Linked DNA regions of Homo sapiens: region 2 is linked to region 1. The links come from fine-mapping of genetic effects on gene expression. Tissue or cell type: whole blood. Region 1 holds a variant in brackets; the other region holds the start of a gene. All regions are shown on one strand. Distances are between the middles of the regions.

The links. PIP is the estimated chance that this variant, and not a neighbour inherited with it, causes the effect.
Region 2: it holds the start of ARLN, and the variant in region 1 is fine-mapped to the expression of ARLN in whole blood (INTERVAL, PIP above 0.99). The same link has a PIP of 0.9 or more in neutrophils.

Annotation. Positions count from the first base shown.
Region 1 is chr4:119,366,099-119,374,365 of GRCh38, reverse strand. It overlaps the pseudogene KLHL2P1 and the pseudogene RNU4-33P. Among named protein-coding and RNA genes, the nearest start is that of LINC01061, 40 kb to the left of the region's middle. The variant G/A (reference allele first, on the strand shown) is at 3,752.
Region 2 is chr4:119,296,217-119,304,216 of GRCh38, reverse strand. It overlaps ARLN (allregulin), which reads left to right and starts at 3,572. Exons shown (of 2, transcript NM_001001701.4): 1 at 3,572-3,881; 2 at 5,438-7,798. The coding sequence starts at 3,682. The coding sequence ends at 5,438. RefSeq lists enhancers at 3,599-3,828, 3,929-3,978.

The sequences.
Region 1 (8,267 bases):
AGGCCAAGCCTGCTATGAGAGCGGTACTAACCAAAATGTGCATAATGATTTTAGATGACATACAGATAAACTTCTTGCATTAATAGTTAAGAATATAGGTTCAGGGCAGGCTTGGTGGCTCACACCTGTAATCCCAGCACTTTGGGAGGCTAAGGTGGGCAGATCATTTGAGGTCAGGAGTAGGAGTTCAAGACCAGCCTGGCCAACATAGCAAAACCTCGTTTCTACTAAAAATACAAAAATTAGCTGGGCATGGTGGTGCGCACCTGTAATCCCAGCTACTTGAGAGGCTGAGGAAGGAGAATCGCTTGAACCCAGGAGGCGGAGGCTGCAGTGAGCCGAGATCGGACCACTGTACTCCAGCCTGGGTGACACAGTGAGACTCCATCTCAAAGAAAAAAAAAAGAGAATATAGGTTCATAGTTAGAAATACATTTTTTAAAGTTATTTTCCATTTATTTCAATAATACAATAATATAAACATTCCTTCCCAAGTAAACTTATTTAAGCAAAAATTGACTCACTGTAGAGAAAAACATTAAAAATTTAATAGCATCAGCACTTGTAGAATATAGCAAAATCCTGAAGCTGGCCCACAAATGATTACAAGTGATCAGAATGTGGAAAACCCTGATTTAGGAGATCAGATTTAATATTCTAATATTTCAATATCTAATATAATTCTGATCCTGTGGTTTTACATATCACTGAAAAAGAAGAATGTGCTTTAATCTGGAGCTATCATAATCCCATGGCTTACTTTCTACTGAAGTGGATAAATTGTACTATCGGTAACAAATGTGAGAAACACCTAGCAATGTAAAGAGGTGATTTCTTAATTTGCTATTTAGGTCACAAAAATATCTTGGGCATTGTAACTAAAAGGTCCAATGAATAAATTTATGTCTTTGAAACTTATTTTCTGAGCTCTCTAAAGCAAAGGAGCAGTTGAACAGTGCTGCTTCTCATATGAAGTAGAATTACATTGATAAAATAAACCCCCAGCCACCATCTAATGGAAATTTCCATCTAGTGCAGAGTTGCACTAGTGTTAACACTGAGATTGATTAAAAATAACCCCAAGGCACTCTATGATCCTGAAGTATATTCCAAAACATCAAAGATGGAGCAATTATAATTTGATATATATTTTGAATGTTAATAATATTTTCTAAGAATCTAAGAGTGATTAAATTCCATATAGTATATACACTGAGGGAAGGCCACACTCCAAAAGCCAAAATATCTCTCTTGGGTACATCTGCCTCTAGGAAAAATGCAAAGCGGACAGTGAATGTAAAGAGGCCCTCGCCCCTCCTTCCTACATCCTTCTCCTTTAGTTCTATTCCATCAACCCAACCCTGAGTCTCTTCACTCTCAGTTTATCTGTGTGCCATCTAAAATCATGAGAACCCTGGTGTTCTCACCATGGGCTCAGTCCCTTTCAAGTCACTACTAACAGCACTGCTTCATTTCATTTGCTTCACAGCACCTACTGCTGTCAGCACTGATGTTATGTATTTGTTCCCATGTTTACTGTCTTCCTGCAAAGGAATGTAAGCTCTGTGGCAGTAGGATCACGTCTGTTACCCCCTGCCACATCCTCAGGTCTCAGAATGTGTACCTCATAAATGAATCAACCTGAACATAATTTTATGACTCCCATGTGTATTTCTATTTTGAGATACAATTGTGCATGTCCTTTGAGACAAAATTACAAACTCTGTTTCTAGGAATGTATATGTACCAGACACTTCTTGTATCCTACTACAAATCCTCTCAGCCTTACTTCTTGCCCAACCCACCACTGCGGCAACCAGGCCCAAGCAGGCTTTGACCACCTTTCTGAAGATGTATCGTAACAGGGCCTCACCCCAGCCCCCGGCCATACCTCTCTCTGGCTTCCTATCCTAGGCCTTCAGTGATGCACTGGGCTCATACCCACATAGTCTGGAAGCATGTGGGAAATAATGCTGTGGGACCACCCTTGACTAGTGGAGAACGGATCAAAGGAAGAGAAATACTTCCCCCTGGTATTCTCCTAGAAGACAGTTCTGAGACATATGTTATAAGGCTTTCAAAGGTCCTGTCACATGTAGCTATGGCCAGATCTGTACTGCACCTATGAACCGGTTTTCCCTCCTTTCCAGCTCAAGTCCTCCATTCACTCACTGTGGCTCCTTGGGATCACTTCCCAAATAAATGAACTGCATGTAAGCCTTGCTTGCAGAAGGACCCCAAGCTGTTATATTACACAATGGAACAAACTGTGAATGTGAATATACTTAGCTATAGAACTATTAATTATAGTGTTGTTTAAATTATAAAAAATTGAGAAGAACTTAAATGTCCAATAACAAGAGAAAAATGAAGTCAATTCTATAATATCAATGAAATTGAATATTTTGCAGCTCTTAAAAGAGATCTAGTAGACAAATATTTAATGACTTGGAAAAATGTTTCTAATACATTTAGTATAAAAAGCTAGTTTCTAAAAGAATCTACAGTATGACCCCTTTTTTGGGTAAACACATGTGTGCATAACAACAGACAGTATTAGAGGGCTATACCACAATTGTTAATACGTTTTATCTCTGGTTAGGTGTGATATGAACATTTCCTATTTATTTTTACATATTTGTTAAATTTTATGTATTTGTTAAGTGGTGCATTTTCTATGTACCATTTAAATGGTCAAATATTATTTAAAAGAAAGTCAGGGAGCAAGTAAAGGAATGTCTTTCTGGATCTCTACAATGCTAACAAATATAACAAGGGTTAAGGGGAGCTATATATGGACTGTGGCTTCTCTGGGAAATATTACCCACCACTCACTAGAGATTGCCTCACTTTGGCGTGTTGAAAGGCCTTTGGAGTCTGAAAGGCCTTTGATCATCAAGCCAGTGTTTTGTAGAACAGTAACCAGGCTCTACACGTTACTCTTCCTGTTCGGTGAACAGCAACAGTTTTAAGTGTTTGGAGAAACATGAAGTAGAAGGACATAGCCCCTGATTAAATAAATCTAACTTAAAATGTTGTCATTTTGAAAAACAGGGAAAAAAAAAAGCTTTTTTATTTGTATATGTTGATTTCCAACCAATGGAGACAAATAAAAGGCTGCACATTTTTTACTTTGGAGATGCTTTCTGCAATGAACAAAGAAATGGAGGGGAGAAGCCACCACTGATCAGTGAAGACACTGTAGAGCATGAGAAATGGAAGACACCCAAGCCAAACAATTAACATCTGTGTGACACTCTCACATCAGCTGCATATTTTAAAGTAAGTTGCTTTCATCCTACTTCACATTGTTTGACAAGCCAAATTACATAGAAGATGTTTTGCTTAGACAAGTATACTCCTTCTGCTTGGCTATTAGGATCTATAGTTTATTTTCAGCTTGGGCATTTATTCCATAGGGGGAAATAATTTATGTAGTATGTCTTTTAAATCCTGAGCCATTAGCAGTTTGTTTATTAGGAAGAGACTACCAAAGGGTCCGATTGCTCCATATATATATAACTTCTAAATATCTAAGAAAACATGCAAGCATGAAAAGACAGCTTTTGTTGTTGCTGTTGTTTTTGACTCGGCTAGCCATAGCTATCCTGCAAGGTGGAGCTTGGGGAGGAGTGTGGGGAGAAGGCAGGCAAGGGTGATGTGTTTAGAAGATGAAACGCTTAGTGACAAGAAAGGCAGATCTGGGTGGAGAGTCATGGTTGGATGCACATAGCAGAGGGCTGGGTTTTGC[G/A]GTCAAGGAGTAGGGTTTTGAGATGTAGAAGTATGAATAAGGAGATGGCAGGATGCCAAGGACAAGCATTTCCTATGTCAAAACTCTGCACCGGGCCAGCCCCCTACATCCCAGAAAGAGGAAGGAAACTTTCTTCCACCTTCTTTCCTGTAACCCACATGCAACCTCGCCTGCCTCCTCCCAACACTCCACCCCTAGGAATAGGTATGTCCCACAGAGTTTAAAAAAACAAAAACAACAACCTCCCCCCACCACAAAAAAAAAACTGTCTGATTAGGTCATATTAATAGCTAATAACACAAGATCTTCCAGAATAAATCCCCTTCTAGGGGTTTTTAACATTTTAAGAGAGGTTGACTCTTAAGCAGAATACAACTGCAATTGGTGGCATTTCCAATGTTATAATTAATGAAGTAGAAAAGCAAAGGTAGTATGGAGAGAAGAAATTTGGGGGCAAAGCAGCCTCAGGCAGACTGAAAGCCATCTCTCCTACACTATCCTTTTTCCAGTTGCTACTTCTACTACTTTTAACCCAAGGTTTCTCTTAAAAGTCCGACTTATTTGAGAGTGGGTCAAATGGATAATGAAGACACCACCTACCTTTCAGGTTATTGAAAAATTAAATGTCAGTCAACGATTTAACACAATGCATGGCAATGACCATGTAGCACATCAGCTCTGACTCAGGGCTTTTTTTCTTGGATTGAACATTCTACCTCATGAGAATTGAACACCAAGATTTAGTCTCTCCCGCATAAGATGATGTTTTATCCCAGATCATTCACAATATAGGTAGCTTCCTTTTTTGATCAAATATTCTCAACATAAAAGATGTAATCAGGGAAAATTTGCAAAAAAAGAAACATAGCATACAAAAATGAGAAATGTATTTGATGCTTCATTAGTTATCAAATATAGAACCATGAGAGTGCATTTTATAAGTATAATACAAAATGTTTTTACTTTTCTTTCTAGCACCTCCCAATTCAAACAACAAAATGTTTCCAGACAATATATATTCAAACTAAAGTACAGTAAGCCTTGGCCCTTAGCATATTTTTGCTGTCACTGTAAACTAATCAACTCCCTTAGAAAACAAATAAGGAACATTGATCAATAGATACCAAAAAATATAAACGTTTAAAACATTTGACCCTAAAATTATGTTTCTGAAAATCTACCTTGAGAAAAAAGTCCAAAAAATGGAATAAGATACATAAATGACTTTTACTTTAGCATTACTTAGTAGAAAAAAAACCAGAACCAACTAAAGATCTAACAATATGGCAACAATTAAGTAAAATATGATAAATCCACATGATGAAATGTTATAATCAGTAATAATAAAGACTAATAATGGCTTTAAAAATAACTAACATTTCTAAAGTATTTGCTATAACAAACAATCCTATTATAAAATTAAATGGACTTGGCACACAGCTTTAACCTATCATCATATTAGAACAACTTAATGGACAACAAGCTCCTCTGATCTCAGGAAACTTAAAAAATAAAACAATGTTGACACAAACAGAACGAACTACTGAACACTTCCACACCAAGTATTTTTAACACGTAGTGGACAGAGTAAACAAAGTGTTCTACTGGTTTTTTTAATGACAGCTTGGCTCCTGCCCTTGCATCCTTCACTCCTACAGCTGGCAGCACTGGATGTGGATCCCATCCCATCTCTAGTCAGAGGAGACACATATCCATTAACATGCTAAACTGTAATAAACCCTTACAATGCAATACTCATCAATAAACAGGGACGACTACTGAAATACACAACAGCATAGATGACTCTCACAAATATGTTATGAGGAGGAAGTCAGCCTTAAAAAAAATACATTCTGTATGATTCTATTTATATGAAGTTCAAGAACAGGGAAAACTAACCTATTATAATAGAAATCACATCAATGGTTGCCTGGAAAGGGAGTGGGAGATTTATTGGGAAGAGACCTGAGGTTATAAATGCTCAATACCTTGATTTGGGTGTGGATTAATAGATGTGTACATTTGTTATAACTTAGCAAACTGTACAGTTAAGATCTATGGTATGTAAATTATATCCCACTAGGGGAAAAACAATCAAGTACAGTCAACCCTCCATGGGATTCAACCAACCTCAGATCAAAAATATTCAGGAAAAATAGTGCATCTGTACTGATTATGTACAAACTTTTTTTCCTGTCATTATGCCCTAAACCATACCATATTAATGATTATTTACACAGCATTTACATTGTATTAGGTATTGTACACAAACTAGAGATGATTTAAAGTATACAGGAGGGGCGAAGCATAGTGTCTCACATCTGTAATCCCAGCACTTTGGGAGGCCGAGGCGGGTGGATCACCTGAGGTCAGAAGTTTGAGACCAGCCTGGCCAACATGGTGAAACCTGTCTCTACTAAAAATACAAAAAGTAGTCAGGCATGGTGGTGGGTGCCTGTAATCCCAACTACTCAGGAGGCTGGGGCAAGAGAATCGCCTGAACCCAGGAGGAGGCAGAGGTTGCAGTGAGCCGAGATCGCACCACTGCATTCCAGCCTGGGCAACAGAGTGAGACTCCGTCTCAAAAAAATAAAAAATAAAAAAGTATACAGTAGGATGTGCATGCGTTATATGCAAATATTAATACTATGCCACTTTAAGTCAGGGACTAGAGCATGCTTAGATTTTGGTACCCAAGGGAAGTCATGGAACCAAACTCCCACGGATACTGAGGGACAGCTGTACTTTAAATCCATACTAATAGATTAACCAGAGGTCAACGGACAGCCTTTATAAGCCATGAAATAAATTTTCAAATAGAAAATAATAATCCTACCTGATAGAATCCAAAATAAGAGGCAACCCCGCAAAAATGCATTTACGTGACCAAATTGCTACACTAGCATTGATAAACTTATTTTAAAACAGTAGCTTGTGCATCCATGTCAGTGATATAGCTATATTCTATTTTCGCAAGAAATAAAGTTTTCAATTAGCAATAATCATGCCTCAGATAAACCTCATTGGCTATGATACTGCCACTGTACAAAGCTAGAAATAAAGTTTTCATAAATTATATAGCCCAAGAAAAGGCATAATACACTTAAACCAGATTATCAGAAGCACATTAATTTTACTAACCTAACAATGAGATTAAGACATTAAGGTCCAAGAGGTAATAATATTTTTAAGACTATATGTCAATAATGCTAGGGTTTATAAAACCTTTGGCTGGTGTCAAACCAAACATGCCAGAACCACATATAATTTAACAACTCTAGACTGTGACCACCTGGACTGGATTGGAGAGGCGTACCCTGAACACTGGCAACTAGCCTGATACAAATGTGCTATCCCACACACAGGCTCCATACCTAAACAACATCACAAACAAGAAAAAAAAATCCACTTTGAACTGGATATATTTCTAATAAGGACTTTGATTTGTTTTTATTTGTCTTGTTCGAGTTCAAATTACAAAGACGCTGTTATAAGATGCTAAATCATAAACAGGATGGAGTCATTTTTTTGTTCATCAAGATAAATGCCTTTTATGTACCACATGAAACTACTTAAAACGTGAATCTCAAAATGATTCAGCCGTGGAGACATCTTCAAGGACCATATATTTTAATAATACAAAGCCACAAGTAACTCAATTACTAATGCTTCTAGAGTACCTAGCCTTGCTCCGAACAATAAATTTTTTAAAAACCACTTTGGGTGTCGTATCCACCTAGTTTTATAAGACGCTCTTATACTAAGGTTTCTAGGTTTTCTCAAACTAGCTGACCTCAATGGCCATTCCATATTAAATTTTAAATAAGACTTTTTTAATTCTATATTCTTATATTGAATAAAAATAATTTAACTAGAATGGAGACTGGATGTTCTAGTTGGTCTAATATTTTGATTAAAACTATGAGGATTACCAAATTCAGACTTAAAATATAATAAAATACAATTAACATCAAAACTCAAATGGTAAATAATTTAAATTTTTATGCCTCTGGATAATAATAAATTAGTACTAACCAGGTAAAGTGATAAAATATCAAGGTAACTGATTTCTGGGTGCTAGAATGTCAGATAAATTCATTACAATGATATAAGTACCCATGGTTATATCATAAACAACCACTAATCCTGAAGGTTTGATTCAGGAATTTATGTAATTTTTTTTTTAAGTTTTAACCTGTGTTTTCCAAGCACATCATCTGCCAAACCCTTTTACTCACAAAGGACTTCTATCCCATGAGAGAAAGAAAACAGAAATGGAAAAGCAATAAGCCTTCCATAGACACTGCTGGGAGATACATAACTTTTGCTCTAATCACTGCATGTCAAACCAATGGAACAGGTGATTCTAAATCAAAGATTTAGCATGGTACTACAATCACCCAAGTGTGGTCTCCATGCCAACTCAAATGCACAAGAGGGAGAGAACTCTATAGCAAATTAGGGACATTTTTTATATGACCTGATTCAGAATATAAAGAGGGAAGGAAAAGTCATA
Region 2 (8,000 bases), 70 kb after region 1:
ATCAATGTGAATTGTAGTGAAGGAAATTTTATGAAGTTGGCACTTAAGTGGGGCCCTGAAGGATGAGTAGGATTTGGACAGGTGAGAAAGCATTCCAGTTTAACAGGAAAAACATGCACCAAAGCCCAGAGGCCAAGAGAATAGTTTCCATGAGGAAGATGGAAGAAAGCACTCTGACTGGAGCAAAGAATGTTTCCTGGGTACCAGGTTGGCTGAGTAGAGTAGAGCCAGATTAATAGTGGGTATAAAGGTGGGAACTGCTAAGGCCAAGATGAAGATAAAAGAGAAGCTGCAACCTAGTTATGATGATAGTACAACTCTTTCTTTGTTAGAGCATGGAGGGAACATGGTCTGGCTCTGTCATCAAGGCTGAAGTGCAGTGGCACAATAACAGTTCACTGCAGCCTCGACCTCAAGTGATCCTCCCAATTCAGCCTCCTGAGTAGCTAGGACTACAGGTGTGTGCCACCACACTTAGCTAACTTTTCTATTTTTTGTAGAGATGGGATTTCGCCATGTTGCTCAGGCTTGTCTCGAACACCTAGGCTCAAGCAATCCACCCACCTTGGCCTCCCGAAGTGCTGGGATTACAGGTGTGAACAACAGCGCCCAGCAGATAGTACAACTCTTAAACAAAGAAAACTATTGAAGATATACAAAGGAGTAAGAATGAAAGAGAACAGCCTGGGTGCAGTGGCTCATGCCTGCAATCCCAGCACTTTGGCAGGCCGAGGCGGGCGGATCACCTGAGGTCAGGAGTTCAAGACCAGCCTGGCCAACATGGCGAAACTCTGTCTCTACTAAAAATACAAAAATTAGCCAGGCGTGCTGGCAGACGCCTGAAATCCCAGCTACTCAGGAGGCTGAGGCAGGGAGAATCGCTTGACCCCATGAGGTGGAGGTTGCAGTGAGCCAAGATCGCACCATTGCACTCCAGCCTGGGCGACAGAGCAAGACTCCGTCTCCAAAAAAAAAAAAAAAAAAAGAATTGAAGAGAACAATAACAACAAAATGAATAAATAAAATGACCCAGAAGATGGAGAAATAACCTGTGGTACCAATCAACAGGGTTGTTGCTAGGACAGGTACTCAACTTGAAAAGGAGGAAAAGACAAAGTTAAGATGAGAAAGAATAATTTAAGATAAACACATATATTTCCAGATGAAAATTACAGTAACCAAATTCTCCACTGTTGGAGAGGTTATTCTATAAAATTAATTTAATTCCTAGGATGATCATGAGGATGCTTTATCACATGGATATACTGGCTTGAGAGCTGCATACGAAAAATTTGCATTATCCCTTAGGTTAAAGCAAAATTCATCATCATCTCCCTCCTGAAAACTTATTGCACTTGAAGTTCAGAAGATCTGTAACGTCTTCTTAAAAACACTTAGCTGTCTTTGGCCTGATGGTTATAGCATTTTCATACACCACCTTCTCCACCCCAGCTCAATCAGATTAATTGTGCTGACAGAATTATGGAAGTGTTGGATCATGGTTGCAGTGCAATGATTCAATCTGTAGTCCCTGGTGCATATTTTTCAGTTGAACATGTGAAGTAGAAAGTTCAAGGTGGTTGGACAAGTGCCGAGGTATTGCATGACTGACAGTGAACCTGGATTTCAGTACAGTACTTTTTAAAATTTAAATTGCTTTGATAATGGCAAATGCCAACTGAGCAAGGTGGCTCATGCCTGTAATCCCAGTACTTTGGGAAGTCGAGGCAGAAGGATCACTTGAGGCCAGTAGTTCAAAATCAGCCATAACACACTCTAAACTCATTTCTGTAATGTGGAATAATCAACAATCAGTGGGACTTTTACAAGGGTAAAGTCGGAAATAGAATCTTTCAACTGAATTTAGTTTAAATAACCCCTCCTTATTTGCACTAGTTGCTCTTCCAAGTCTGGCAGACGTTCCTGACTCTAGAACAGATCATACTGTCAACATCCCCTCATGATGAGCATGTGACTCTGGGCCAAAGACAAGTTTAAAACCATTTCAAGACCTGTTCAGTTTATGTCATGCTTCTTCAACACTAATAATCTCAATAATTTTTTATCAATCCTACTTCAATAACTAGGAGTAATTGATCCTACCTTGTCAGCGAGAAGAATGCTTCCATCTCTGGTAGAGGCAATTGTTTATTTGCCTTTCCTAATTTTTGTAAAGATTCAATGCCACTTAAGCCCAGGGTCTTTTTGTCTACTACCATCAGACAATCTGTATTACAGCACACAATCTAATTAATTCTCAGGTAATGGCCCTCTCATCCCAGAATCTACAAAGCATTTTTCTTGAAAGGTCGTATACTATCTTTGTCTCTAAAACCTGGCAATTGATTTGGAGGCAAATTGGAGCAAGGTTAGGAAGCTATGGAACAGCTTTAAGAGTGCTGGATTTGGAGTTAATTTTAGGCTTTATAATTTTTTTAGTAACCTTAGACAATTCACTCCTTTTGTGTCTCATTTCCTAATTCTATAAGATGGAGTACTGCCCCTTCAAAGAGGTTTTACGACGATTTAATGACTTTGTAAAAACACAACTACAGTCTTATCTCCATTTACTATGCACCAAGAGAACCACTTATATGTCTGGGTGCCCGTTATTTTCTGAACAATTCAGGAATCATAATGTGACAAGAAAGAGAATATTTGAAATTGGACCCACGAGGTAAAATCCAGGCAGTATAGGTCATTTTCTTCCTGCTAGCATTCTGTTCTTGCTGAGGCTCACACTCAAAGTCAAATAACCTTTGGGTTATTCTTCCCACCCCCATTTCCCCCCAGATGGAGTCTCGCTCTGTTGCCCAGGCTGGAGTGCAATAGTGGCACGATCTCAGCTCACTGCAACCTCCGCCTCCCGGGTTCAAGCGATTCTCCTGCCTCAGCCTCCCGAGTAACTGGGATTACAGGCGCCTGCCACCACGCCCGGCTAATTTTTGGATTTTTTTTTTTTTTTTTTTTTTTTTAGTAGAGACGGGATTTCAGCATGTTGGCCAGGCTGGTCTCGAACTCCTTACCTCAGGTGATCCGCCCGCCTCGGCCTCTCAAAGTGCTGGGATTACAGGGGGGCGCGGCCAGGTTATTCTTAAACCCACTCCCTTGAAGTACCTGCAAAATGCTCACGTGCTGCTCTCTGGCCCGTTTGGAAACTCAGTCCCGTGAGTAGGACGTCCACCTCATTGGTGGTGTTTAAATATTAAGTGTCAAATGCTAGAGACAGTACAAAACCCACCAGAGGGGGCCTTCCTAACACGTTGGCATAAGGATCCAAACGGAATACGGGGATAGGAGAGGTGACCTCGTGCAGTTTCAGGGAGGAGTCCATCACCTGACTGGACTGGGCCTTTCAGGGGGACGAGAACGTATTTCTTCCAACGAAACCTGAATAACCAGCTATCTGCCTGGGACGCCGCGAGGCAGAAGTAGGCGGGCCCATTGACTTAGTGTCAAGGCGGAGGCCGCGCTTCATGCCAGCGGTCACGGAGGCAGCGGAAAGCCGAGCCAGGCGCCTGCGCGCTGGGAAGAGTAGGTTCAGAGTGCATTCCGGAACCCGGGGCGCGGCGCACTGCGCAGGCGGCCGGACTCCGCTCAGTTTCCGGTGCGGCGAACACCAAAGTCCGGGAACTTAAGCATTTTCGGTTTCTAGGGTTGTTACGAAGCTGCAGGAGCGAGATGGAGGTGGACGCACCGGGTGTTGATGGTCGAGATGGTCTCCGGGAGCGGCGAGGCTTTAGCGAGGGAGGGAGGCAGAACTTCGATGTGAGGCCTCAGTCTGGGGCAAATGGGCTTCCCAAACACTCCTACTGGTTGGACCTCTGGCTTTTCATCCTTTTCGATGTGGTGGTGTTTCTCTTTGTGTATTTTTTGCCATGGTGAGTATCTCGAATGCAAAATTGGGGTGGTAAGGAGCTTAGAGATCATTTGCTCGCTTTTGGGCGGGGAGGGGACTGAATTCCAGAGAGTTTATATATGTCCAAGATCACACAGCTGGTGAGTGGCGCAGTCGGGTGGGTGGGGGAGAAGGACTAGGAGTAAAATGTCCTTCTTTAGCACGTCCGTGGGAGTCTCCAAAGAAGTGTGGAGAAAACTTGGCGTCATATTTTCTCATGATTTGGAATGAAACCAGCTAGGCTTGAGTTCCTGCAGCACCATGAAGCGACCGGAGAAGTTATTTCGCCTTTTGGAGCTTTATTTTTTCATCTGCCATTTGGGACCATTAGTAACCCAGGTCATAGGGGTGTAGTGAAGATTGAGATCGTAGTGATTTGCATGTTGCCTGGCAGTAGTAAGTGCTCAACGAAAGCTATTTTTACTATACAGCTGTTTAACCATGAGCAGACCACGCAGCTGTCTCAAACTAAACATGTCCAAAACTGAACTCTTAACAGCTTCTTACCCAAATTTACTTGCCTTGCAGCGTTACCATTTCAGTAAACGCCAACTTTATCCACCGTTACCTCCCAGAAACCTGAGACACTTTGCCCTTTTCTTACACACATCCACATATCCTAAAACACCAAGTTACAAAATTCTGTAGAGTTTACTTGTAAAACCCATGCTCTCCATTTTCATCGCCACTCGCTCTGAAAAGACAATTCTGGCAGAGGGTAAAGGAAGGGAACTTAAGAGAATAGGGCAGGAGGAAGCAGACACCAAATGGAGATGGTGTTAAGAGACAAGCTAAGGAGAAGCAGTGAGATGAAACAGGGCTCCTATGGGAGAAGAGCAGTGTAGCCCATCTAGACAGCTCTCCTGGACTTTGGAGTTGATTGTTCACTCACTGTTAACTCCTTAGTCACCATGCCTATGAGTTACTTCTGAAATTCTCACTTCTTGATAGGCAGTCACTTCTTCTACACCCCCAACCCCCATCCTATATTTTCACCAAGATTTGGGTGTCTTAAGCCTCACTGTCTCATTTCTTGGATGGTGTAGTAAGTTAGAGAAGACAGAGAGGGCCAGGCACAGTGGCTCACGCCTGTAGTCCCAGCTACTTGGGAAGCTGAAATAGGAGGATTGCTTGAGCTGGGGAGGTCGAGGCTTCAGTGAGCTGTGAACGTGCCACTATACTCCAGTCTGGGAGACAAAGCAAACCCTGTCTCAAAAAAAGGGGTGGCAGGGGAGCGAGAGGGATTAATGGGAGGATGGCAAAAGGGATAGGGATTTCTATAAAATTCTCTGTCAAGCCATTTGTAAAGGGAGAGTTTTACTCTCCCTCCCTGTTTTGGTAGAGACTGATAATCTCAAATACAGTGGGTTTTGTGTGTGTGTGTGTTTTTATGACCTGAACTTTCAGCTCTGGATAGAAAATAGAGGCCTTACAAGAAATGTTCTAGGCTTTTCTTTTTATCAATATGTAAATAGGCATAAAGTGTTAAAAACTGGGAAGATAAAGCACATATTGCTGACAAATACTTGCTTTTTACAGACTTGTTCGCTGATATCTAAATTAAGAAGTTGGTTCTTGAGTGAATTCTGAAAATGGCTACAAACTTCTTGAATAAAGAAGACAGGACTCTCAATAGAAGAATTTCACATCTCCAAGGGACCCTTCCTTTCATTTTACACTTTGTTACTAATTTGCAGAACTCTATTAATTGGGTAGGATTTCACCCATTCCTAGCTAAGTTCTTAAAATTAAACCCTTTGGTTCGTGTTTAAAAACTTTCAAACATCTGATGGCTTTACAGGGGCTGAATATAAAAGCATTTGTACTTAAAGGTCTTGTGTATTCATTAAGAAATATAGTAATGTCTTTTAATGTTTTAAGAGTTGATCAGGGTTTACTATGATGCAAGTAATAGGATGATTAATAAGGGAAGGTTTTTATGAATTCAAAAGTCAATTATTCAAAAGCAGGGAAAGATTTTGAGAGAGGGAACAAAGTATTCTTAGATTGCGTAGAAGCTGCTAGGTTCCAGTTTTAATTTTTAGGTTTAGTTGGACTCTGTTATGAAAAGATAGGTTATGGGTGGGCGACAGGTTGATACAGTCTTAGAAAAAGCAGGTAATATCAAAGTATTGGAAAGCTAGCATGCATGCCCTCTTACCTGGGTATCTTCCCCCTTTTTTCCTTTTAAACTCTTGAGCCTCCTATAACGAAGGATTATGTGTTTCAAACCTATTTTTTTTTTACTGTTTCATTAAGTGTGCTTGTGCCCAAAATATTTACTTGTATAATATCTGTAACTTGCTTAAATACTTCAGCAAAGTCAGCATATTTACTCATTCAACAAATATTTGAGCCAGGCATTATTTTAGACACAGCAGTGAACAAAACAAAAAGGCATTCTTGCCTTCATGGAGCTTACATTCTTATTGTTATTTAAATCTAAATGTTATAAAACAAGAATTTATATTCTAGGGTTGATCAGCTAGTATTTAATCAAAAAGGCCACACTCCCATAGCAGCTACTCTAAGCTGTAGTAGCTAATAAAAAATATTAATGTTGGCCGGGCACAGTGGCTCACGCCTATAATCCCAGCACTTTGGGAGGCCAAGGGTGGTAGATCACTTGAGGTCAAGAGTTGTGACACCAGCCTGGCCAACCTGGTGAAACCCTATCTCTATTAAAAAATACAAAAAAATACAAAAAAATTAGCTGGGCATGTTGGCATGCACCTGTAGTCCCAGCTATTTGGGAGGCTGAGGCACGAGAATTGCTTGAATCCGGGAGGTGGAGGTTGCAGTGAGCCAAGATGGGGCCACTGCACTCTAACGTGGGCAACAGAGACCCTGTCTCAAAAAGAAAATATTCCTGTTAGCCCTAAAGGCTTTACATGAGGAATGGTAGAAGTGGTCTTTTGTTTAAATTAGTTGCATTCAGCATATATGAATTGTCTTAAATATTTTGGGGATACTCCCCCGCCTTTTAAACAGGGCATAAGATCTGGTAAACTCTCTGTATATCTTCCTACCTTTCAAAATCGTTCTTAGGGTTAGTCAAGTCTGGAATATAATTGCTGACTATAAAGTTAGCAATTATGCTTTTAAGGTGTTGTCACATCAACCTAAAGAGAACCATCTATGGAAGGTATGGTTGAAACATCTGTAGGAACACAGAACTGGGATTTCACTGAGTTTACCAAATCAACTGTGTGAACTGTTTCTGCACTGCTTGCTAATGGTTTCATCTAATAAATGTTTACTTATATAGCTGAGTTTGGTTTTATTCTAACAAATTACCTGGTGGTGTGATTGTGAGGTGATTAACAGTTCTCACATAGTTTACTGTTAGGTCACACACAGACTTCCGATCATAATCCATACTGCCTTTTTGAGCCTAAAATCAGCCTACTACCACAATTACCAAATATTCTGAAAATTTCTAGTATGGTGAAGATGGAGAGATCTTGGTGTGAAGGTTAATTTTATATGTCATCTTGATTATGCTAGGAGATGCCCAGATTTCTGGGTTTGTCCATGAGGGTGTTTCCAGAAGAGATTAGCATTTGAATCAGTAGACTGAATAAAAAAGAGCCACCCACTCCACTGCGGGTGGGCCAACCCCTTGAGGGCCTAGCTGGAATAAAAAGGCAGAGGAAGGGCAAATTCTGTCTTCTCTCTGCTTGAACAGGGACATCCATGTTCTATCCTTGGACATTGGTTCTCCTGATTCTCTGGCTTTCAGACATGGACCAGGGCCCCTGGTTCTCAGACCTTTGGGTTTGGACTGGAACTACACCATTGGCTTTCCTGGGCTTACTGTCTGCGGAAAGCAGATTGTGGGACTTCTCAGCCTCCATAATCACAAGAGCCAATCCCTCATAATAAATTTATTTCTATATATATCCTGTTGATTCTCTTTCTATGGCAAACCCTGACTTAGTAATATGACATGACTGTAATTGGCATTTTCAAAATGGTGGCAGTATGAAGGCTGAATCTTTCCTATAGGTAAGAAATTGTACCTACCATTAAACTGTGCCATAGCAAGTATAGTGACTGCTTACATTGCCCTCAGTTTGAAGGCTTTTAAGAAGTGGATAAA